7 linked regions of the Homo sapiens genome follow. The protein of the gene in region 3 purifies or fractionates together with the protein of the main gene of each other region. This does not show direct contact. Each region holds a gene or a part of one and is shown on either strand. Other genes may lie near its edges. The genes, in order: STRIP2, ESF1, NSDHL, ATP2A2, POMT1, EXOC1 and AKAP12.

What was found.
Region 1: the proteins of NSDHL (region 3) and STRIP2 purify together in Homo sapiens (co-immunoprecipitation; one large-scale study listed by IntAct). This does not show direct contact.
Region 2: the proteins of NSDHL (region 3) and ESF1 fractionate together in Homo sapiens (co-fractionation; one large-scale study listed by BioGRID). This does not show direct contact.
Region 4: the proteins of NSDHL (region 3) and ATP2A2 purify together in Homo sapiens (affinity purification with mass spectrometry; one large-scale study listed by BioGRID and IntAct). This does not show direct contact.
Region 5: the proteins of NSDHL (region 3) and POMT1 purify together in Homo sapiens (affinity purification with mass spectrometry; one large-scale study listed by BioGRID and IntAct). This does not show direct contact.
Region 6: the proteins of NSDHL (region 3) and EXOC1 purify together in Homo sapiens (co-immunoprecipitation; one large-scale study listed by IntAct). This does not show direct contact.
Region 7: the proteins of NSDHL (region 3) and AKAP12 purify together in Homo sapiens (affinity purification with mass spectrometry; one large-scale study listed by BioGRID and IntAct). This does not show direct contact.

What each region holds. Positions count from the first base shown.
Region 1 is NC_000007.14:129,437,432-129,440,931, forward strand, and holds part of STRIP2 (striatin-interacting protein 2), read left to right. Parts: intron 1-2,590; coding exon 2,591-2,660; intron 2,661-3,500. UniProt on the Homo sapiens protein: Plays a role in the regulation of cell morphology and cytoskeletal organization. Required in the control of cell shape. Calmodulin-binding scaffolding protein which is the center of the striatin-interacting phosphatase and kinase (STRIPAK) complexes.
Region 2 is NC_000020.11:13,778,420-13,781,919, reverse strand, and holds part of ESF1 (ESF1 homolog), read left to right. Parts: intron 1-3,500. UniProt on the Homo sapiens protein: May constitute a novel regulatory system for basal transcription. Negatively regulates ABT1.
Region 3 is NC_000023.11:152,862,063-152,865,562, forward strand, and holds part of NSDHL (sterol-4-alpha-carboxylate 3-dehydrogenase, decarboxylating), read left to right. Parts: intron 1-533; coding exon 534-662; intron 663-3,500. UniProt on the Homo sapiens protein: Catalyzes the NAD(P)(+)-dependent oxidative decarboxylation of the C4 methyl groups of 4-alpha-carboxysterols in post-squalene cholesterol biosynthesis. Also plays a role in the regulation of the endocytic trafficking of EGFR.
Region 4 is NC_000012.12:110,347,247-110,349,419, forward strand, and holds part of ATP2A2 (sarcoplasmic/endoplasmic reticulum calcium ATPase 2), read left to right. Parts: 3' UTR 1-146; coding exon of another isoform or gene 147-166; 3' UTR 167-2,173.
Region 5 is NC_000009.12:131,519,918-131,522,108, forward strand, and holds part of POMT1 (protein O-mannosyl-transferase 1), read left to right. Parts: intron 1-162; coding exon 163-276; intron 277-1,428; coding exon 1,429-1,555; intron 1,556-2,129; coding exon 2,130-2,191. UniProt on the Homo sapiens protein: Transfers mannosyl residues to the hydroxyl group of serine or threonine residues. Coexpression of both POMT1 and POMT2 is necessary for enzyme activity, expression of either POMT1 or POMT2 alone is insufficient.
Region 6 is NC_000004.12:55,898,648-55,902,116, forward strand, and holds part of EXOC1 (exocyst complex component 1), read left to right. Parts: intron 1-1,037; coding exon 1,038-1,237; intron 1,238-2,187; exon of another isoform or gene 2,188-2,507; intron 2,508-3,469.
Region 7 is NC_000006.12:151,347,967-151,351,466, reverse strand, and holds part of AKAP12 (A-kinase anchor protein 12), read right to left. Parts: intron 2,757-3,500; coding exon 1-2,756. UniProt on the Homo sapiens protein: Anchoring protein that mediates the subcellular compartmentation of protein kinase A (PKA) and protein kinase C (PKC).

The sequences.
Region 1 (3,500 bases), on a different chromosome or scaffold from region 3:
TCTTAAAAAAAAAAAGAAAAGAAAGAGAATAATAGAAAATATCACTGCATCACATGCAGTAAAGGTAAATATTTTGTTAAACTTTTGTTCCAGTTTGTGTGTGTGTGTGTGTGTGCTGGGACGTAATGTAAAAGGTATCATTTTTCCAAAAAGTTTGAAAAACAATTTTTAATGGCTGTTCTTTATTCTGAGATTCTGTCTTTCATTTTTTGAATTTTTTAAAGTTTTTAAAGTCCTTACCTATCAGAATAAAACAGCAACAACCCTATGTCATTTGCCACTCTCCACCTTTTTCTTTTTCCCTACTGTTCCTTTTAATCCAAAAGTTTGGAAATCTTTGCTATAGTGGATTAAAACATGATTCGCCTTGTTTTTTTTTGTTTTTTTTTTTTTTGACAGAGTCTCACTCTGTCACCCAGGCTGGAGTGCAGTGGCGCAAACTCGGCTCACTGCAAGCTCTGCCTCCCGGGTTCACGCCATTCTCCTGCCTCAGCCTCCCGAGTAGCTGGGACTACAGGCGTCCGCCACCATGCTCGGCTAATTTTTTGTATTTTTAGTGGAGACGGGGTTTCACCGTGTTAGCCAGGATGGTCTCGATCTCCTGACCTCGTAATCCGCCCACCTCGGCCTCCCAAAGTGTTGGGATTACAGGCGTGAGCCACTGCGCCCGGCCAATTTGCTTTGTTGACAGTATAAATTGGCATAATGTTTTGGGGGAGCAACTTATATACAAAGAGACTTTAAAATGTTCATAAGATTTGATTCATTAATTTTCTTTATAAAAATCTATGCTTAGGAAATATCCTAAATATAGAAAAAAGTGTAAGTCTATTACAGTTTGTTGCATATAATAAAGGAAAATTAAAAACCATTTAAATATTCAATAAGGAACTAGTTAAGTAAACAAATAAATGTACATCCATTTATACAACCATTTAAACTAATAGTCATAATAATGTGAGAAGAATGCCTTTATAGTATAATATTAAAATCATAGAGTGACCACTCACATAGTGCTACGAAGTGCTAGGCCGTGTGCCTTTCCTATATTAACTCATTTAGTCCTTAAAATAACCCTATGAAGTAAGTCCTGTTATTATCCTCATTTTACAGATGGGAAAACTGAGCAGGTCATTTTCCAACAATTCGCTGACACCAACTGGATGTCCTACAGTTCAATTCGATTCTGACACTAACTACCTAGAATTAGCACAGACCCCCAAGTTAAGGGCTCAGTCCTACAAGGCCCTACGTTAGACACCAGCCATAGGTGGGATCCCCAAGCTATCTACACTTCAGCCTGGCCAACTACAAATTAAGCGGTTATCATGATCTTCCTTTCAGGTTCCATAATTTGCTAGAATAACTCACAGGATTCAGGAAAGCATGTACTTAGAATTATAATTTTATTATAAAGGATATGACTCAGAAACAGCTAAATGGAAGAGATGCGAAGGACGAAGTATGGGTTTGGGGTGATGCAGAGTTTCCTTATCTTCCCTGGGCAGCACTCTCCTAGCACATCTGTTTGTTCCCCAACCCAAAAGCTGCCTGAACCTAGTTGTTTCTGGGTTTTCCTATGGTGTTTCATTACCTAGACATAATTAAACTATTGGCCACATGACTGAACTTAATCTGTAGTACCCCTCCCCTCCCTGGATGTGGGGGTGGTGCTGAAAGTTAAACCCTCTAATCATGTGCTCCGTCTTTCCTAACATAAGTCACCTCATGAGCATAAATTCTGGTAAAGCTGACAGTGACTCATTATGAATAACTGACACTCCTATCACTCAGGAACTTCTAAGAGTTTCAGGAGCTCTGTACCAGGAACCAGGGGCAAAGAACAGTATATTTTTTATGTCACGCTGAGGCACAGAGAGGTTAACTTGTCCAAGATCAAATAGTATGTGACAGAGCTGAGATTGAAAATTTTAAAAATTCATATGTATGAACATATACAGGAAGGAAATATCCCAAAATGTTTAAGTTAGAAGATGGGATTATATTAAAACATATTTACTAGGATTATAAATTTATACATACAACGTCATGGGAAATGTAATCTTTACTACAACTTGGAGTGGAGATGTTGCATCATTTGACAATCCTAAAGTTGCAGAATATTAGAGCTAAAGAACCTCTTTAAAAATAAGGAACTATGATCCACAGCATGAGACTTGATCTATATCATACAGTGGGTTGATGACAGAACTGAAGCTAGAATCCAGTTCTCTTTGTTTCTGTCTGTCTCAATTTTATATAAATCAGCTAGATGCTCCTCTGGTCTGTGTTCATGTAGATTAGATATGGACACAGACCATAGCTTTCATATATGTTTGAGATCCTGGCCCTTTATTCAGACTTTCCGATTTTGTATAGGAATCCTCAGCCCCTCCCCACACTGAGACTCAAGTTTTGGCTTGGCGTAGGGTACCTCTGAGATGAAAGACCCAAATAGGACTCTCCTAACTGTCTCCCTGATCTAACCTTGGCCTCCATGAGGGGAAGAAGATAAATAAGGGTACAGTCTTCCCTTGGCAACCCCTTTTTCCAAGTTATCCCAGTTACCAACAAAATTTCTCTGTTACAGGGCTCTGTGGACTGTCCCACTCTGGAGTTTGAGTATGGAGATGCAGATGGGCATGCAGCCGAGTTGTCAGGTATGAGGTAGATGGGTCAGTAGCTAGTGGAAGAATGGCCAGGAGGAGAGGGAAGGGGCCTGTGATCTCCCTGGAAGCTTGTCTGTTCTCACCAAGTGGCTGTTGAACAAAGGCTGTTCTCCACATTCCTTTTCCTCTCCATCCAAGTGGTAAATATCTCTTTGTTTGTCTTCACATTTCCTTCTGTGATTCTCCTTGGCTATGGTATTCTTCATTCTGTCATTCTATCACTCTTTCCTGCTCACTCTTCTTTATTCTCTTTGAAAATAACTGATTTGGTGCACTCTCAAATCAGTTTTCTCTCCATCTTCTCCATATTCCTTCTCTTTTTCTCTTCCTGTCACCCATATCTTTGCCTGCCTACTTCTTTCTGCTGCCCTCTTTCTATCCCATGCCATCTCTTTTTCCTTTGTCTCCTCTACCTCCATCTTTTCCTTCTTCCTCTCGCAACTGCCCCTTATTAAAATCTCAGCAAAGTCCGAGGAAAAACTATAGTCAACTGGCCAGCTGAGCAAGGCTGGACATGTCACCTGCATCCATCATAGTAGAGTTCTGCTTGGATGTTTATGAGCTGGGGTTAAGTAATTCCATTCTTCTTTCAGTGCTGGCCTGCTTGTCTCTGTCTGGATTTTTAGCTTAGGGTAAATGTGATCTCCTCACATTAAGGGCCTCCATGTTACATGTGCTATGAATGCCAGTTATTAATAAACAAGCTTTGGGTGGAGATGTGTGAAATTTAAATATTCTGTCACATGGAAGTGATACTTTGAGGCATGCTTTTTCAGAGAAAAGAGACAAACAATTTTAAAGACGTTCTTGTGCATGAGCACAGAGAATAAA
Region 2 (3,500 bases), on a different chromosome or scaffold from region 3:
GGCTGACAGAGCGAGACTCTGTCTCAAAAGTAAAATAAAATAAATAGGGTAAGTAGGACTCCGTCTCAAAAATAAAATAAGAGGGTAAGTAGAGTTGAGTACTCATTCATTAATTTGTTCAGTTGCTTTGCCACTAGTATGTGGCAGGCAGAATATGAGTAAGGCGTCGTCACCCATCTCAGGGCTGTCGCTAGCTTATATGATGCCTTTATGCAAATTAGAAAAAGGCATGCTCTCTGGACACACAGAGCTCCCAGGGGTCACACTTTGGTGAAGAGATGGCGCCTTTGAAGCAACAGATTTTTTGCCCCTGAGCAGACACAGCCCCCTCCAGAGTGCATGGCTTGGTGAGTGTAGGATGGCCTTGATTTTAGCCCTTCTTGTCCTTTTATAAATGCCCCTGTGCGGATAACAGCCTGCTAAACTTTGTGCAGTGGCCCCTGTCTAAAGCAACATTGTCTAGTAGAAATACATAATTTTGGATTTTCTAGTAACCACATTAAAAAGTAAGATGAAACAGGTAAAATTATTTTAAATAATATATTTTATGTAACCCAATATATCAAAATTATTTCAATATGTAATCAATATAAAAGTCAATGTATATTTTACATCCCATTTTCTACTCATTTCATACTAATACTATTTTCATATTAATGTCAAGTTAGACAAAACGCATTTCAAGTGCTCCGTTACCACATGTGACTACTGGCTACCATATTGGACAATATAGATCTAAAGTAGAAGAAAGTCAGAACCATAATACAAAATGCAATAATAGTAAGTGCCGTAAAAGATGTTTAGCAGAAAGCCATGGAAATCTGGAGGAAGAAGTCACTCAAGATGTGGTAATCAGAAAAATTCATAGGGGACGCACTACTTTGGGGTGTGGAAAAATTTAAGTTTGAGGACCAGAGTGTGCTACATGGAAAGAACTTTTTGAGCAAAGATGTGATTGGGCATGTTCAGAAGAGGTCAGTAGTCCCGTTTGATTAGATAATAAGGTCTTGAAGGGCCAAAATGAGTAGCAGCGAGAAATGATTGTTTGGAACTAGGTGAGAGACAGCTGGCTCTAGTTTGCATTACGTGTTTACTAATTAAAATTTTTTGTCACCTCCAGCAGCAAGCAATTTTGAGTGTTGATGTTGCTGATAGTTGAAGATGTAACTGAAAACCAGTAGTAGTTCACATGAGCCAGACCTGTGATTACAGGATCCAAGGAGGGGTCTTGATAGGCCGAGAGGTCTTGATAGGCCAAGAGGTCTTGATAGCCCAAGAGTTCTTGATAGGCCAAGAGGTTTTGATAGGCCAAGAGGTCTTGATAAGCAGAGATCACACTGTGAGGGTAGAAGGTATCAGGCAGTGGAGTGAATTCTGGATAGCAAGGACTAGGGAGTCAGTGGTGGTATCCCATTTTACATTTGTAGTGGAACCAGGCAGCAGACCTCTTGAGGTGTGGGAAGAAAGGATAGGAATCCGGTTACTAAAATTGAAGAATAAGATTGGAGTGGGACCGGCAGCAAAGTTGATTTGACACTGAATTAGTGAGGTAAGTTAGTCTAGCATCCACTTCATTTGGGGCACTGAATTAATATAACATAGCTATATAATCCTTTAGATTGATTTTACAGACTTTTTTACATATCTTTTCTCATTTAATTTTCTTAGTTACCTTGAGCAATAAGACTGTATCAGCGAACAAGATTAAAGTGACTTATGTAAGGACATGCAGACCTGGAACTGCAACTCAAGTCTTCTGACTCCTTCTACCCCACCACATTGCTTGCAGTAATTTTGTTGGTTCCACAGTCTAGGAAAGGCATTACTCATAAATAAGGATTACACGGCTCCATATATAATCTTCTGTTCATTATCCATTCATCAGTTATTACAGCAATTACTGTGTGCAAGGGCCTTTTTAAGTGCTGTGAAGTAAAGGTGATGTGAGGACTTGCAGTGTGATATTTGTCATCATGAAATGTTCATGCCCAGCACTTGCACTCCTCAGAATCTATTTTACATAAATAATTGGATGTGTGCAAAGAATGTGCATTGCAGCATTATTTTTAAAATAAAACGGTAACTGGCTGGGCACAGTGGCTCACCTTTATAATCCCAGCACTTTGGGAGACCGAGGCGGGTGGATTGCTTGAGGTCAGGAGTTTGAGACCAGCCTAGCCAACATGGCAAAACCCGGTCTCTACTAAAAATACAAAAATTAGCTGGGCATAGTGGTGCACACCTGTAATCCCAGCTACTTGGGAGGCTGAGGCACGAGAATCACTTGAACCCAGGAGGTAGAGGTTGCAGTGAGCCAAGATCGTGCCACTGCACTCCAGCCTGGGCAACAGAGCAAGACCTTGTCTCAAAAAATGAAAATAGAAATTAAAATGGTAACAAATCATTAAGAGATTAATTAAATATATGCAAACATCTGTGATCTATGAAGTTTTAAAAATAGGTTCCAAAATAACGATATGACCAGTTATTTTAAACAAATTAGTATTTAAATTAAAGAAAAGAAATTTAGGGATATGGTTGTATACTAAAATAACCAGTTATCTTTGAATGAAAAATTACTGCTAGTCACCTTTGTTTTATTTATTAACCATATTTTCCTAACTTTTTTTGGTTTGTAATGATCATTCATTATGTTTATAATTGGGGGAAAATGGTAAAGCAGTTTTTTTGGTTTTTTTTTGTTTTTTGTTTGAAGTAGCTGGATAAGTAGTAATGTTTACAGTCACTACTAGAGCAATACTGTCTAGGAATAGAGACATTTATATTTGTGTAACCCCACATTATCTTGCACAAGGCTGTGTACATTGTGGGCTCTAAGCAGATACTTTTTGGGGTTTTTTATTTTTATTTTTGGAGACAGGGTCTCGCTCTGCTGCCCAGGCTGGAGTGCAGTGGTGCAATCACAGCTCACTGCAGCCGCAACTTCCTGGGCCCAGGTGATTCTCCCACCTCAGCCTTCCGAGTCACTGGGACCACAGGTGCACCCCACCATGCCTAGCTAATTTTTGTATTTTTGTAGAGACAAAGAGTTTTGCCATGTTGCCCAGGCTTGTCTCAAACTCCTGGGCTCAAGATCCTCCCATCTTGGCCTCCTAATATGATGGGATTACAGGCGTGAGCAGCTGTGCTCGGCTGCAGATACTTATTGAATGAATAAATACTCTGAATGCAGTTGATATTGTTAAAAACATTGAAATGGAAGACCTCTTTAAGTCTCTTATGCAACACTTTATTATTATATAACCCAAAGTGTGGTATGTGTACCATTGTCATAAGTGAGAAGATTTTTGATGATACTCAAACTTCTAAAATATTAATAGTTATGTACTGTGTCAACATCTTAGAAAACAATGTAATTACCCTATCACTTCTGTGACTTTAGGAATATTGTTTAGAGCAAAACTAACTTTTAAAAAATTCAATTTAATAAAAAAATGATATTCAAAAATCATGAAAATGGTATAATGACTGACAGTTGA
Region 3 (3,500 bases):
ACCAGCAGGCTGGACGCTGGGGACCCTCATAAGAGAATATCTTCCTTTAGAATAGCATTTCTTAAGAGGTCGTGTGGTGTGTGTATTCCTATGTGTGTTCACATGGCCAGGTCACTATCAGAATAGCCAGTGATCTTTTTCAGACATCTTCCTAGAAGTTTGCGGGCTGCCCTTCACTTACAACAGAGAATCGCTGTCATAGTGAGATACCATGAATGCAAGTCTATTCTATCTCTCAGGTGTGATGGGATAGAAAAAATGTGTTATCCCTTGTTTTGAAACCAAGATCTCTTGATTCTTGGTTAGAATGTAATACATAGTGTGTCTGGAATCCACATAGCTGCAAAAGATGGTGATCTTTGGATTATTTTAAGAAGGCATGAAAAGCAAAGGCATTGCAGCAAATAATTTCTTCAGTGCCTCGAATGCGAGGGCAACAAAGGGATGCCCCTGATTCTCTTTCATACAGGATCATGCACTGTTTGAATTGTGATAATTTGTGACTTTTATTTTTTCTGACCTTCCTCTGTCAGAAACTCATTTTAACCAGCAGTGCCAGTGTCATCTTTGAGGGCGTCGATATCAAGAATGGAACTGAAGACCTTCCCTATGCCATGAAACCCATTGACTACTACACAGAGACTAAGATCTTACAGGAGAGGGTATGTACCTTGGAACTGGTTGAGTGAGCAGACTGAAGGGTTTAGAATCCTAAGAAAAATGTTTATGAACTTATGAAGTTTGTATTCTGAGGCCTACGTACCTGATTTGAGATGTAAAATTTGTGGGTGAAATTAAATTTAAAAATACTGTGAGAGGCCGGGCACGGTGGCTCACGCTTATAATCCCAGCACTTTGGGAGGCCGAGGTGGGTGGATCACCTGAGGTCAGGAGTTCGAGACCAGCCTGGCCAACATGGCGAAACCCCATCTCTACTAAAAATACAAAAATTAGCCCAGCATGGTGGCAGGCGCCTGTAATCCTAGCCACTTGGGAGGCTGAGGTATGAGAATTGCTTGAACCTGGGAGGCGGAGGTTGCAGTGAGCCGAGATTGTGCCATTGCACTCCAGCCTGGGGGATAGAGAGAGAGAGACGCTGTCTCCCAAAAAAAAAAAAGTTACTATGAGAACAGCTTTATGTGGCCAGACACTGTTCTGAGTGTTTTCCAGGAGTATTTTCCTTGTTTAAAGGTCACAATTATCGCATCATCACCAGATTATAGATGAAGACTGTGGTGCACAGATGCACAGAGAGGCTCAGAACCTTTCTAAAACTGTGCAGCTAGGAGGTGGCTGACCCCAGGCAGTCTGTCTACAGAGCTTACAGCCCACCCTCAATGCCATGGGAGCTTCCTCGCCTGCTATGGGAATTTACAGCAGTTGCAAGCGTGCAGACAGGAATCAGGCTGGAGGCACCTTCCTAGTGGCACTCTCACCCCCTCCCTTACTTAGAAAAACAAACAACGGAAGGATCTTGCTTTATTTTAAGGAAAAAGTACTTTTCCACTTGGCAAAACAGCTTCATCAAAGGGCACCTGATTTTAGTATGGTTGGATTCAGCCACGGTCGCTACCAAGCCTTCAGGCTGCTGGGGCTGTGGGGCCCCTGACAACTGCTAGCTGCAGATGGGGATTGTCACCCTGAGGCCATCCTAAGCTGCAGGCCAGGAGTGCTCCTGAGCCTGGGATAGCTCGTCTTAGCTGGGTAGCTGTGAGTATACCCCTCCCAGGTGTGTGCAGTGTATCACACCCACTGAGGTTTTCTCGCAAAGCCGGTACATGCTGTACTGGAGCTGAACACTGACCTGGCTACCTGAGAGCCAGCTGCCTCCTGGCTGTTTGCCGTATTTTTTTTTTTTTTCTTTTTTGAGATGGATTCTCACTCTGTTGCCCAGGCTGGAGTGCAGTGGCACGATCTCGGCTCACTGCAACCTCCACCTCCCAGGTTCAAGCGATTCTCCTGCCTCAGCCTCCTGAGTAGCTGGGATTACAGGCGCGTGCCACCATGCCCGGCTAATTTTTGTATTTTTAGTAGAGACGGGGTTTCACCGTGTTGGTCGGATGGTCTCGAACTCCTGACCTCATGATCTGCCCGCCTTGGCCTCTCAAAGTGCTGGGATTACAGGCGTGAGCCACCATGCCCAGCCTGTCTGCTGTTGCTTCAGCTCAGAAAGTCCTGGCAGAACTGGTCCACAGGGAGACACAAGGGCCACCCAGACCAGGGGTGGAGGCTTGAACTTTGGCAAGCCACAGTCCTGGCTCCAGACTATGCTGTCTTGCTCCTTGGAGCACTCATGTGCTCGAACTTGGCCCAAGGAGTACTAAAGCCTCCCTGCGCCTTGCAGGCAGTTCAGTCACCATGGAGACCCTGTGTATTCTCAACCCAATATGCCTGATACTGATTGCCACCAGAGCTGAGCCCATCTAGGCTCAGGAGCTTCAAATGATGGCCTTGGCCCAGACCATCAGTGTCTCGCTTATATCAACTTTTGGGTTCTCAACTGGAAATAAGCAAAGCCTGCAGATGACTCCAGCAGTAACTCACCGGAAGCCTCCTTTCAGCCGAGGTTGACATCCACTGTTGGCTTTATAACCTTCCTACTGATCATAAACCAAATGTGATGGGGAGCTAGGACTCCTTCACCTCTCTTCCCTTTAGTAGTAGAGATGAGCCTTGGTGGAAGCCATTTGAGGGTTTATTTAGTCATTTCCTCCATCGCTGTGGGGACCAGAGTCCTGGCGGGAAGAGGAGGGCCAGCTCTGGGAATCTGTTGAGAGGCAGCTTTTCCATTGTTGAGTTGCTTAAGATCACTGGGGCCAAAACATAGACCAGCACTTTGCTACCATAGAGTAGAAGAAACCCGAGGTGACATGACAGCAGGAACCGTACTTACCAAGCATACAGACACGCACTGAAGCAACTCACATGGGCCATCTCGTGTAATTCGCATGCAGCCCCGTCAGGGTAGGTACCTTTATGATCACCACTTTTACCCACGATAAAACAAATCCTTTGGAAAGTTTTGTTACTTTTGAGGCGAAACCCATTTCACTGTGCTTTAGACTCTTGAGTTCTAGTTTGTCCATGAAGTCACACAGAAGTCACCCTTTCCTTGCGGTGGCAACAGGAGCACTGGCTCTGGACCAGGCACTGCTCTGAGGACTTTACATGTCTCGGCCTCCTTTGCCCCCCAGCTGCTGGCCTGTTTCTCCCCAGGCATGGTCTTCAGACCCTTCACCTTCTCTGACCCTCTTCTGGGCCCACTTGGGTTTCTCAGAGCCCTCCCCTCGGAGGTGATACTCAGAATTGCCTGGAACAGACCCGGCCTGGTGGAAACGTGGGCGGCACATGCAGTTCAAGTCACTGGAGGCTCACGGCTAACTTGTTTGCCAGAACCTTTGGACGTTTTCCACAAACTGCTGCCGAGGCATGTCTTCTGGCAGTGTTGGTGGATTTTAGCCTTTGAACGCAAACCAGGGCCTTCTGATTTGATCTTACCA
Region 4 (2,173 bases), on a different chromosome or scaffold from region 3:
TTTGCCAACATTGCCTATTTCAGTGGCACGTCATCTAGTTTTAAAAAAATAAAACATTTTAAATGGACAGAGAAAAATAACTGTCTTGTCTTTAACTCGTAAGTGGCTTACCTGGGACTAACAGACATGTCCAACTTTCTCTCCAGTTCTTAGCTCAGAACTTTAGTTGTACTCTGCTTGAGGGGAAGAAGGCTCCTGCTCTGCTGTGTAGGTAGTCATAGGAATTGTATTCTTAATGTACAGGCACTAATTGTCATCTGTGATGTACATTTTATGCAAGTTTCTGCTGGCCTGGTATAGAGAACATAAGGGCAAGTGTGTATGTGTGTGTATGTGTGTGTTTTGTAAAATCTGTAAATAGCACATGACCAAATGAACATATTGTATAGAACTATTTTTATTTGAATGTGGCACTAACCACCACCACCGTTACTACGATCAATGTTTGCGCATGTTCGAGATGAGTCTCACCAACAGTGTGTAAGTCATTAACAGTCCTAACTGTGGTGTTTTCCTCCAATGCCTTCCAACATCCATCAACTAACGTGAGTATTTTCTTCCTGGGATTTGGATGCTTTAGCCTAAAGGTGACTGCCACCAAGTGAGATAACTGTATGTCACTAACTTATAAGCCGCCTCCATGGCAGATGCTGCTGTGCTCCCTGATGCCCTGTGAGCACCGGGGTTGCCTGTGGCGCCTGCCATGTGACTCGGGCGCAGCATCAGCTGGCTGGAGGTGTGGCTTTCATAGACCTCCACAGGCTGCCTAGGACAAGATGACCAGGAGGGCCCAAGCCAGACAAAAGCCGGAGTGGGGAGAGAGGCATTTCAGCCAGACCAACAGGCTGAAGGAGCTGTGCAGACTATTGCTAAAATGAGGGTTCGCAGCTGCCAGGAGTCATCCCAGAACATTGCTACTTATTTATTAAAAAGCTAAAAACTAGTGAAAGCAAGTAACTGAACCAGTGAACTCTGGGTATCGATAGGTTCGTCTTAAATAGGCCACTTCCCCACTCCCCCACCCCCCCTTGCTTGGTCTTGTCCTTGGTGGCTAAGACTTAGCTCTGCAGGGGATGTTAAAGCACAGTTAGTAGGACGTGGCTCTGCACAGCCCAAAAACCAGCTTACTCCTTAGCCAGGGTGTGAGGCCTCGACTATATTCTTCAAAATGTACTTAGGCTCTGGTTACTGGGATGGCCAGTAGATGTAATGCAGATGGTTGGAGTTTGGGGAGGGTTAGGAGGCATCAAGCAGGACAAGGTGCTGCTGAGTTCAGAGGGCCCACGTTCAAGGGATGGAGGTGGAACCTGGAGACCGACTCTTAAAAGCACAGTCCGTGGTTGGGTGTGGTGGCTCATGCCTGTAAGTAAGTCTCAGCCCTTTGGAGGCCACAGCAGAAGGATTGCTTGAGCCCAGGTACTCAAACCAGCCTGGGCAACAGAGTGAGGCCCTGTCAAAAAAAAATCAGCCTTACTGTGAAGCCTCCAAGGCTGCTCGCAGGCAGCTGTGGCTCTCGGGAAGGGAGGCTGCTTTGCCCAGCAGGGAACATTTGGGGCAGGGGGTAAATTTTGCCAGTTTGAGCATCATGAGGTGTAACAAGAAATGGGTTGAATGGGCCAAATGCAAGGAGTGCATCTCTGGGCTGCAAACTGACTTGAGTGCTGCACTATTGCTATTCCGTGCAAACAAAACTCAGCTTTTCCTGACTCAGTTCCTTGACTTAGTGGCCTTTACAAAAAAAGTTGAGTAGTGTGTGGCCTGCTGTCGCACAGCCCCTAGTTAGCTTCATGGTTTCTCAGCTTCAGACCCCTCCAGCCCACAGAGGAGCCCATGGAGGGACCCACTTCCCTTGGTCCAGACAGCTGGGAGTGGGTTAGGCCCACTGCTGTTTTGAGCAGGGCCACTTGCTCCATTTCACTGAAGGCTTTGCTGGGTGAAAACACTTCAGCATCTCCTCCTCAGGTCAACCCATAAAGACCAGGTCCAGCACCGTGGTCTTGGCACATCCCTGGCCTCAGGCCCTCACCTAACAGTGAGGCAGCAGCTGCCCAGCCCCGCAATGTGCCTGCTGTCAGGCAGCTCTTGCCTGAAACTTACTTCCACATTCTTTCCTGATGGGCAGGTGGCTGAAGGCCCAGCCATCAGTGTCGCTTGTTGCCACCCCGTGCCTCCC
Region 5 (2,191 bases), on a different chromosome or scaffold from region 3:
GGAATCCAGGTTCTCATCATGCTGCCTCCGATGCATGATCCGAATGAACTTGAGCTGGGCCAGTCCACGTGCAAGGGGCAGCAGTGTACTCCTTTGACCAAATCCACGCACAGCGGGAGGCATCCCCCATCCTCAATCTCAGAGGCCTCTGCTTTGTTCCAGTGGAGGATGCTGGCGCTGAGAAGTGATGACTCGGAACACAAGTACAGCTCCAGCCCACTGGAGTGGGTCACCCTGGACACCAATATTGCCTACTGGCTGCACCCCAGGACCAGCGTAAGCGAGCGATGCTGACAGCTGACAGTCATAGATTCATCCTGTTTCTTGAGAATTCCTTGCATTAAGAGCAGCCGCTGCACCCTAGAAAGTGCTGGGTTTCTCCCAAGCTTTTCCTGACAAAGGCCTGTGACTTGGTTTTCTCTAAACGCTTTGGCAACCTGGAGCCAGGAGTAGGGGTGTGGCATGTGTGCCTGTTGAAGGAAACCCGGCTTGATTGCTTTTGTGGAGACACATTGTTCCCCTTTTCCTGGCGAAAGTGGTTTTAAGATATTCCCATTCAATTTTCCGTGTGGCACCTGGTGGTGGAGCTTACCGGTGCTTTGCTGATGTGCGTGCCGTCTCTCCACCCGGCAGAGTGAAAGCATTGGTAGGCCGGGCGCACAGTCAGCGCCCCATAAATATTCACTGAATGGGCAGACGCTGGAAATGCCCACCTTTTTCCTCCTCCCTCAGAGGCGGGTAGGTCGGCTCAGCATGTGCACTGAAGGCAGAGGCTCAGGCCCAGAGGCCGCCCCACCCCGAGCTCTGAGCGCACTTTGCATTCTCCTCCGTGGACAGCGCTGCTGTTACAAAGTGGAGTCATCTGCTCCCAATTTTCAGTTTCCAATTACAAAATTGAGAGCATCAGTGCTGTGTGTGTGTGTGTATGTGAGAGAGAAAGAGAGAGACGGAGTCTTGCTCTGTCATCCAGGCTGGAGTACAGTGGCGTGATCTTGGCTCACTGCAACCTCCACCTCCCAGGTTCAAGCAGTTCTCCTGCCTCAGCCTCCAAGTAGCTGGTATTACAGGTGCCCACCGCAATGCCCAGCTAATTTTTGTACTTTTTAATAGAGACGGGGTTTCGCCACGTTGGGCAGGCTGGTCTCAAACTCCTGACTTCAGGTGATCTGCCCACCTCAGCTTCCCAAAGTGCTGGGATTACAGGCATGTGCCACCACACCCGGCTGGCATCAGTGCTTTTAATGAAAGGTCTGAGTAGGAGCAGACCTGTCCACAGTAGTAGTAAGGCCTAGTGGATGCTAGGCTGTGCCTGGCGTTTTTTCACTCTGCTAAAGTAGTGCGTGCATCTGAATTCCTTTCCTGTGTTCTCTTCTCTTCCCTCCCTGAGCAGAGGGCAGGTGGCTAACAGCATCTCCCATGTTCCCTTAGGCTCAGATCCACCTACTTGGAAACATAGTGATCTGGGTTTCGGGCAGCCTCGCTCTGGCCATCTACGCCCTGCTGTCCTTGTGGTACCTGCTCCGACGGCGAAGAAATGTCCATGACCTCCCTCAGGGTTAGTACCTCTCCCACATGGCTTTCTTTCTTTTTAATATAGACATGGGGTCTTGCTGTGTTGTCCAGGGTGTTCTTGAACTCCTGGGCTTAAGCGATCCTCCTGCCTCGGCCTCCCATAGTGCTAGGATTACAGGTGTGCGCTGAGCATTCACCGCCTCAAGTGACAAACCGACTTCATAGGAACCTACCCCTTAACGCGGCCTCTTTGTTTCTGTATTGTGGAATCTTAAATTATGTTTGTCTCCCAAGAGACAAAATGTTAAGTTCCCATGTTGCGTTAGAGGTGTCTCCAGTCGAGTGCAGCGTATTGGGCAGGAATTGCCCTCTTGGTCCCATGTTGCCCGTATGCGCTGGAAATGGCTGGGTAACACAGGCAGCCAGGCCGGGCGCGGTGGCTTACACCTGTAATCCCAGCACTTTGGGAGGCCAAAGTGAGGGAGTCACCTGAGGCCAGGAGTTCAAAACCAGCCTGGGCAACATAGTAAGAACCCTCTCTCTAAAAAAGCAAAAGAGAGAGAAGACCCGGCCTGTGGGAGCAGCAGAGTCGGTGTAGCTCGAGCCCTTTCCTATAGATGCCTGGCTGCGCTGGGTGCTGGCTGGGGCGCTGTGTGCCGGTGGCTGGGCAGTGAACTAC
Region 6 (3,469 bases), on a different chromosome or scaffold from region 3:
CCTCTCTTCTATATATGGGCATATTGTATGTGTGCTTTCTTTAATATAAAAGTGTTGTCATACCTGACACACTATTTTTGAAGCTGCTGGACTCTATATAATCTTAGTATCTTTCTTAGTTAGTTAATATAGATAAACATAATCATTTTTAATGATTGCATAGTCATCCATATGTCATTATCCATTTACCAAATCTTCTATTAATAAACATTTAGGATTTTTTTAGTTTATCTATCTTTGTATACTTGTCAAATAATTTCTTTAGGGTAAATTACTAGAAATGGAATTACTGGGTCAAAGGATTTATGTATCTCAAGTCTTTTCCCAAATTGTGATACAGAAAGCTTATGTCAGTTTAGTGCTATGAGCAGTTGCATTACAGCTGTACCAATGCTGGGTTTTACTAGGTATTACCAATCTTTTTATTCTTTGTCAACCTGATAGGCTATAAATTATCTCACTATTTTATTTTGCATTTCATTGATTTTGTATATGGTGTCTTTACTTTACATGAATTTTCAAATTTTATCTCCAATTTATTTATCTTTCCCCTTAACAGTCTTCTAAATTTTGGGCCATTCTTAGCAAGGTCACACTATTGCAAAATTATTATTTTTCTATTAGTTATATTTTCTTTAGTACTTATGATTGTATTATTTGTTTGCTTTTTACATTTTAAATAATTTAGCAATTTAGAATTTGACTGCAAGATGTAAAGTAGGAACTTAAATTTCATATATTAAAATGGTCCAGCCGGTTGTCCTAACACATTTTGAATAATTCATCATTTCTCCATTGATCTGAAAAGCTACTTTTATTATATACTGAATTTCCATATACACATGGGACTGTTTTAGGATGACTTTTTATTATGATTAGGTAGATCTGAAGACTCCCATTACAATATATTGTATTAAGTCCAGAAATGTGCTTAATTCTTAAACTTACAAATGAAAAAAAATTAATAGTATAAATGTTTATAGCTAAATATGGTCATACTCAGAGATGTTATTTTATTTTTTCTGTTTTGGTTTTAGTGGAGAAAGTAGCAAATGAAAGCCAGAAGACCCCCAGGGATGTGGTTATGATGGAAAACTTTCACCATATTTTTGCAACTCTTTCTCGATTGAAAATCTCATGTCTAGAAGCAGAAAAAAAAGAAGCCAAACAAAAATACACAGATCACCTTCAGTCTTATGTCATTTACTCTTTAGGACAACCTCTTGAAAAACTAAATGTAAATATATTTTCATTCAGTATTTTTCCTACTTTTGAACCTATACACATAAGTTTGCATATGAATAACCTGCAGACATTTATCTTAAATTTTCTCATGTGTTGGTGCACAGGGGACTCAGTTATTGAAGCTGCCAGTGTGCCAGACACTGCTAGATGCTATATATTTTATTTCTTCTTTCTGTACATTATTTTTATACATTATTTATCTACTATATTTTAATGATAATTGTACTAGTATTCTATTATGCATTATTTCTTTTAATTCTTATAAACAATGATGTGTAAGCTAAGATAATATTATCCCCATTTCACAAATGAAGAAACTGAAAGTAAAAAAACTTGCCCGACATCATAATAGCTTATAAATTACAAAGCTGGGGGATGAACCTAGATTAGGCTTTGCCGTTACTCTTTCCCATTTCTTACTTTATAAATGACCAAGTTTACAATGTCTAGGTGGAAATTTCAAAAATATTATTAAGATAAAAGAAAAACCAAAAATTGCTTTCTACATTGCCTTTTACTTTTCTTTCCCTTCTTTTTTTTTCCTTACTTGAGTCATTTCCCAGAGTAAGTCTGTTAATTAAAGTTAAGAAATGATGATTTTAGGGAACTTTACAAGATAGTGAAAGCTTAAATGAACCTTTTAAACTAACTTTGTCTGCAATATAGTTATCTTTTATAAGCTCTTAACTTGAAGTTAGAGTAAAATAGCGCGGTGACTCACACCTGTAATCCCAGCACTTTGGGAGGCCAAGGCAGGCGGATCACGAGGTCAGAAGATCGAGACCATCCTAGCTAACAAGGTGAAACCCCGTCTTTACTAAAAATGTAAAAAAAAATTAACTGGGCGTGGTGGCACGCTCCTGTAGTCCTAGCTACTTGGGAGGCTGAGGCAGGAGAATCACTTGATCCTAGGAGGTGGTGGTTGCAATGAGTGGAGATCACACCACTGCGCTCCAGCCTGGGCGACAGAGCAAGACTCAGTCTCAAAACAAAACAAAAAAAAAGAATATGTATCTGCTGTCAACAATTCAAAGAAATACTTGAAAGACATTTAATCAAATGCAGAACTAATTCCTTATAAAACTTAAGAACAGACAAATATTCCTTTAACTGGATAAAAGATCTATCTCAGGCCTAAAGCTTACATGATACTTAACTGCAACGTTAGAGACATTCCCTCTGAAATCAATTTAAAGCAGAAATATTGTTAGATCCTTTATTATTTAGCATTGTTGTTGAAGCACTAGCCAGTTCAACAAGACCTGAAACATAAATAAGAGATATGGAAAACAGAGACGAGATTATCACCACCTGTATATGATATGTTGAAATTACTGGTGTTGGTCAAGTGACAAAATTTAAAGCAAATATACTGAAAAACAATGTATTTCCTGTCTACCAATTAAGAGCTTATGTAAAAACAAAATTTTTAAAGCACTAAGAATAACTTCTCAAAGAATGATAATTTAATGAATAATCACTAAGAAAATTTTAGAAAAAAGTAATGAGAGGGAATGGGGTTTGTCAGCATTAATTCTTTGTATCGTGCTCAAATACAGTTATGCCAGTCAATAAAAGTATATATATAAAAGAAGACCTGGGAATAATAGTTACAATAATATAACAGAGTCAGTATATTTAATATAAAAAATCTTACTAAAATCAATAAGAAAAGCACTAAGACCCCAATTTATAAATGGGGCAAGGGGCTGAATCACTACTAAACATATAAAAGCAGGTTAACCTTATTTATAGCCAAAGAATTATAAAATAAAATGACAAACTTTTTTTACTCTGGCAACTATTGTTATAAATTGTCATAATGCTTATGATGGTATAGTGAAGTAGCAACCTCATACACTGTTGACAGAAATATAAATTGGTTGAGCTTTCCTAGGAAGCAGTTTGTATATATACTGAAGAATCTTTCAAATACTTAAAGTTATGCTCTTCAACAGAGTAATTATAGTCCTGGAAATTTAATCAGTAAGATGGGTAAATACTTATATACAAAAAAAATTTATGACAAATATATTTATAGTAGATTTTCTAAAGTCTCACTAGATTTGCCAAGTCCAAAAAAAGAAGGGGGAGTGGGATGTTAAATATCTAGTACTAGAGGAATGAATAATAATTGTGGTTCAGTCATTGTGTGAAATATTATGCAGCCATTAAAATTTATATTTAGGAAAAAACAATATTAAATGTAAAGTGGGACATGAAA
Region 7 (3,500 bases), on a different chromosome or scaffold from region 3:
CACCTCCTGCACCGGAGTGGCCTCCTCTGTGGTGTCTGGGGAGTCGGTTAACTGGGAGACTGCTGACACCATTTCTGTGGTCTCTTCAGCAGCAGATGCTTCGGTTCCTTCTTCGGCACCCAATGGCCCTGCAGTTTCTGCAGCTGTCACAGCTTCGGGGGTCAATTCCGCCTCACTAACGACCGTGTCGCCCCGGGCCTCTCTGTTCTCTGGCAGAGGTTCAGTAACCGTGGGGGGTTCTTCTTCTGCAATTACTTCTCTTTCCAATACCTCCTCAGTTAACAGTGCGGCTTCAGCTTCTACTTGTTCAAGAGGTTCTGTCACTGAAGCAGATATCCAAGAAGGAGACCTTTCTTCAATAATGGTAGCTGCCCTCGTCCCGTCAGCGACAGCTGCTGCCATCATATGAACCTGACTCTCGCTGAGCTCCTTGGACACCTCAGTGGCTGCCTTCTGCTCGGGCTGCTCTGCGCTTTTTTGGGCTTGCTGTGCCTCCATTTTCTCCCTTTCTACAGCATCATACTCAGACAGAGGGACCACGGCCGGGACATCAGAGTCATCTTCGTTGGCCCCTGTTGGCCCTGCGTCTTCAACAGGGGCTTGTTCTTGTTTCCCATCTGGCCTTTTCTTCCTTCGTCCAGGAATAAACTTCTTGATTGAGACCCAGGATTCTTCTTTACCGGGTTCAGTGTCTGGAGTGGAATGTTCTACACCAGACCCAGCTATGGAGTCTTCGCTTTTCTCTTCCAGCTTGGACTTTGATTTTTTTCTTGGCGTGACTAACCTTTTAAATGACTCCCAGGTGGAAACGCCCTCCCCTTCGGTAGGGCTTCCAGCTTGCTCCGGGGAGGAACTTCCCTGCCCTGGATCATGTTCTTGGGAACCAGCAAGGATCCCGTCTGTCCCCGTCTCTTTGTCTTTTCCGGCCTCATCAGCTTTCTGGTGGTCTCCTCCCATTGCTTTTGGTCCCCCTTCCTCATCAGAAGAGGACCCTCTCCTTGCTCTTTTCTTGGATGATCCCACACAAATTAAAGCTTCCCAAGATACTGAGGTATCCACCTTGCGCTTTGGTTCTTCCGGCTTTGGCTCTTCCACGCTCCCTTTCATTTCTTCTTGCATTTCAGAGGCTGTGCTCTCGGTGGAAGACAAGGTAGCGCTCTTGACCTTGTCCAGCTCATCTTCTTTATCACTTTCCGAAGGCCGTCTAACACGCTTCTTGGGCGTCACCATCTTTTTGAATGATGCCCAGGGAGTGACACCTTCTCTTTTTTTCTCTCCATCGGAAGTAGCTCCTTCTTCAGCTTCCCCATCCTGCTGCACCTCGGCTAAGCCCTTTTCCAGACACGTGATCTCCTCGGGCTCCTCAGGGGATGAGGCAGAGCTCTCGCCCTTTTGCTCCTCCTGGCTGTCCGGAGAATCGGCTGGAACCTGAGTGTGCTCCCCTGATTCCTCGTCTCCTCCTCCTCTTTTCCCTTTCTGTTTCTTTCCAGAAAGCTTTTTTAAGCCAGTGCTGGTAAAAAGCTTCTTTAGTGGACTTCCCTGCACCTTCATTCTCTCCTGTGATGACAGCATTTCCACCTCACTCACAACGCCTTCGGGGGGTTTGGACAGCACCTTCTCATCAGGACTGAGGTCAGCTCCCTGTGTAGGGTCCTCTCCGGAAACACACGTTTCTTTGAGCTTCACCAGCTCCTTGGCAGGTTCAGCTTCCTGAGGTTCTGCATCCATTTCAACCAATTCTTCAGCTGGCACAGACCCTGCTGTTTCTTCCACCTCCGTTTTCTGCTCTTCGGTTCTCTCCTCCACGGTGCTGACGTGGACTTCGGCCACAACCTCTTCTTGGTGGACTTCTATTTTCTCATCAAACACTTCTGTCGCCAACGGAGCAGGTTTCTCTTCAGAAGGTCCCTGCGAGCCACTGACTTGCTCCTCTGAGGGCAGCTCAACTTTCTCATATTCAGCTGATAACCGGGGCTCGTGGGCACTTTCTGCCGGCTCCTGTGGGTGGGCTTGCTCGGAGGCGGTCAGTTTCTCGGAGGCAACCTCTGCCTTTCCGTCTTCTTCTGTGTCTACTTTTTCTGGCTCTTGTTCCTTTTTCTTCTCTGAAGCTTCCACTTCATCCTCCTTCGGCTTCCTGAAACTGGTCTTTTTGCGCCAGCCGGCCCAACCTTGAGTGAAGAATTTTTTGAAGGTTGATCCTGTTTCACTGGTCACGGGACTAGTCGGAGATTCTGCAGACTTGCTAGGTTCTTTTTCTTGTTTCTCTTCTCCTTCCTCTTTGCATTCCTCCACTGCTTGGCCAGATTCGGCTGGGGGAGAAATTTCTGCGTGGCTTTGCTCACGCTTCAGGGTCTCTTCGGGTTTCTCTGTAGATTGTTTGGGTTCGCTTTCTTTGGATGCTGCTTCTCCAGCCCCAAGGCTGGGGTCCTTGTGGTCGCCAGCCCCTGCTGCTCCCTCCCCTTCATCTTTCTTCACAGTGAGTAGCTGGACAGTGTCAGGCTTCTCTGTCTTATCCTTTTTCACAGTGAATTTAAAGCCAACAAACTTAAACACCTTCTTAAATCCAATATCATTAGCCTGGGACTCAGTGGGTTGTGTTAGCTCTTCTAAATTGCTTTCTGAAGAAGGAATCTGTTCGATTATTTCGGGTGTCTCCTCCTGCCCATCATCTGTGATGTCGTGAACAACCGCTGACTTAGTAGCCATCTCTTTATCGGAGTCTCTTTTGCTCACATCTTCAGAGTCTCTCTGTCCAACTATTAACAAAAAGGGGCGGGGGGGTGGGGAGAAGAGAAAAGGTGATTACAATACAAGAAAATTGTTTTTCTCCGACAGGGCCTCACTCTCTTGCCCCGGCTGGAGGGCAGTGGTGTGGTCTCGGCTCACTGCAGCCTCAACCTCCCAGGCTCAAGGAATCCTCCCACCTCAGCATCCCGAGTAGCTGGGACTACAGGCACATGCCACCATGTCCAGCTAAGTTTTTTATTTTCTGTAGAGATGAGATCTCACTATGTTGTCCAGGCTGCTCTCCAACTGCTGGGCTCAAGTGACCCTCCTGTCTCAGCTTCTCAAAGCAGTGGGATTACAAGTGTGAGCTATAGTGCCTAGCCCAAGAAAATTAACTTTTTTTTTTTTTTTTTTTGAGACAGAGTCTCACTCTGTCGCCCAGGCTGGAGCACAGTGGCACGATCTCGGTTCACTGCAACCTCTGTCCTAGGTTCAAGTGATTCTCCCACCTCAGCCTCCTGATTAGCTGGGATTACAGGCGTCTGTCACCATGCCCAGCTAATTTGTTTTTTTTGTTTGTTTTTTTTGAGATGGAGTCTCACTCTGTCACCCAGGCTGGAGTGCAGAGGCACGATCGTGGCTCACTGCAAGCTCCGCCTCCTGGGTTCACGCCATTCTCCTGTCTCAGCCTCCCGAGTAGGGAGGCTAATTTTTTTTTTTTTGTATTTTTAGTATAGAGACGGGGTTTCACCGTGTTAGCCAGAATGGTCTCG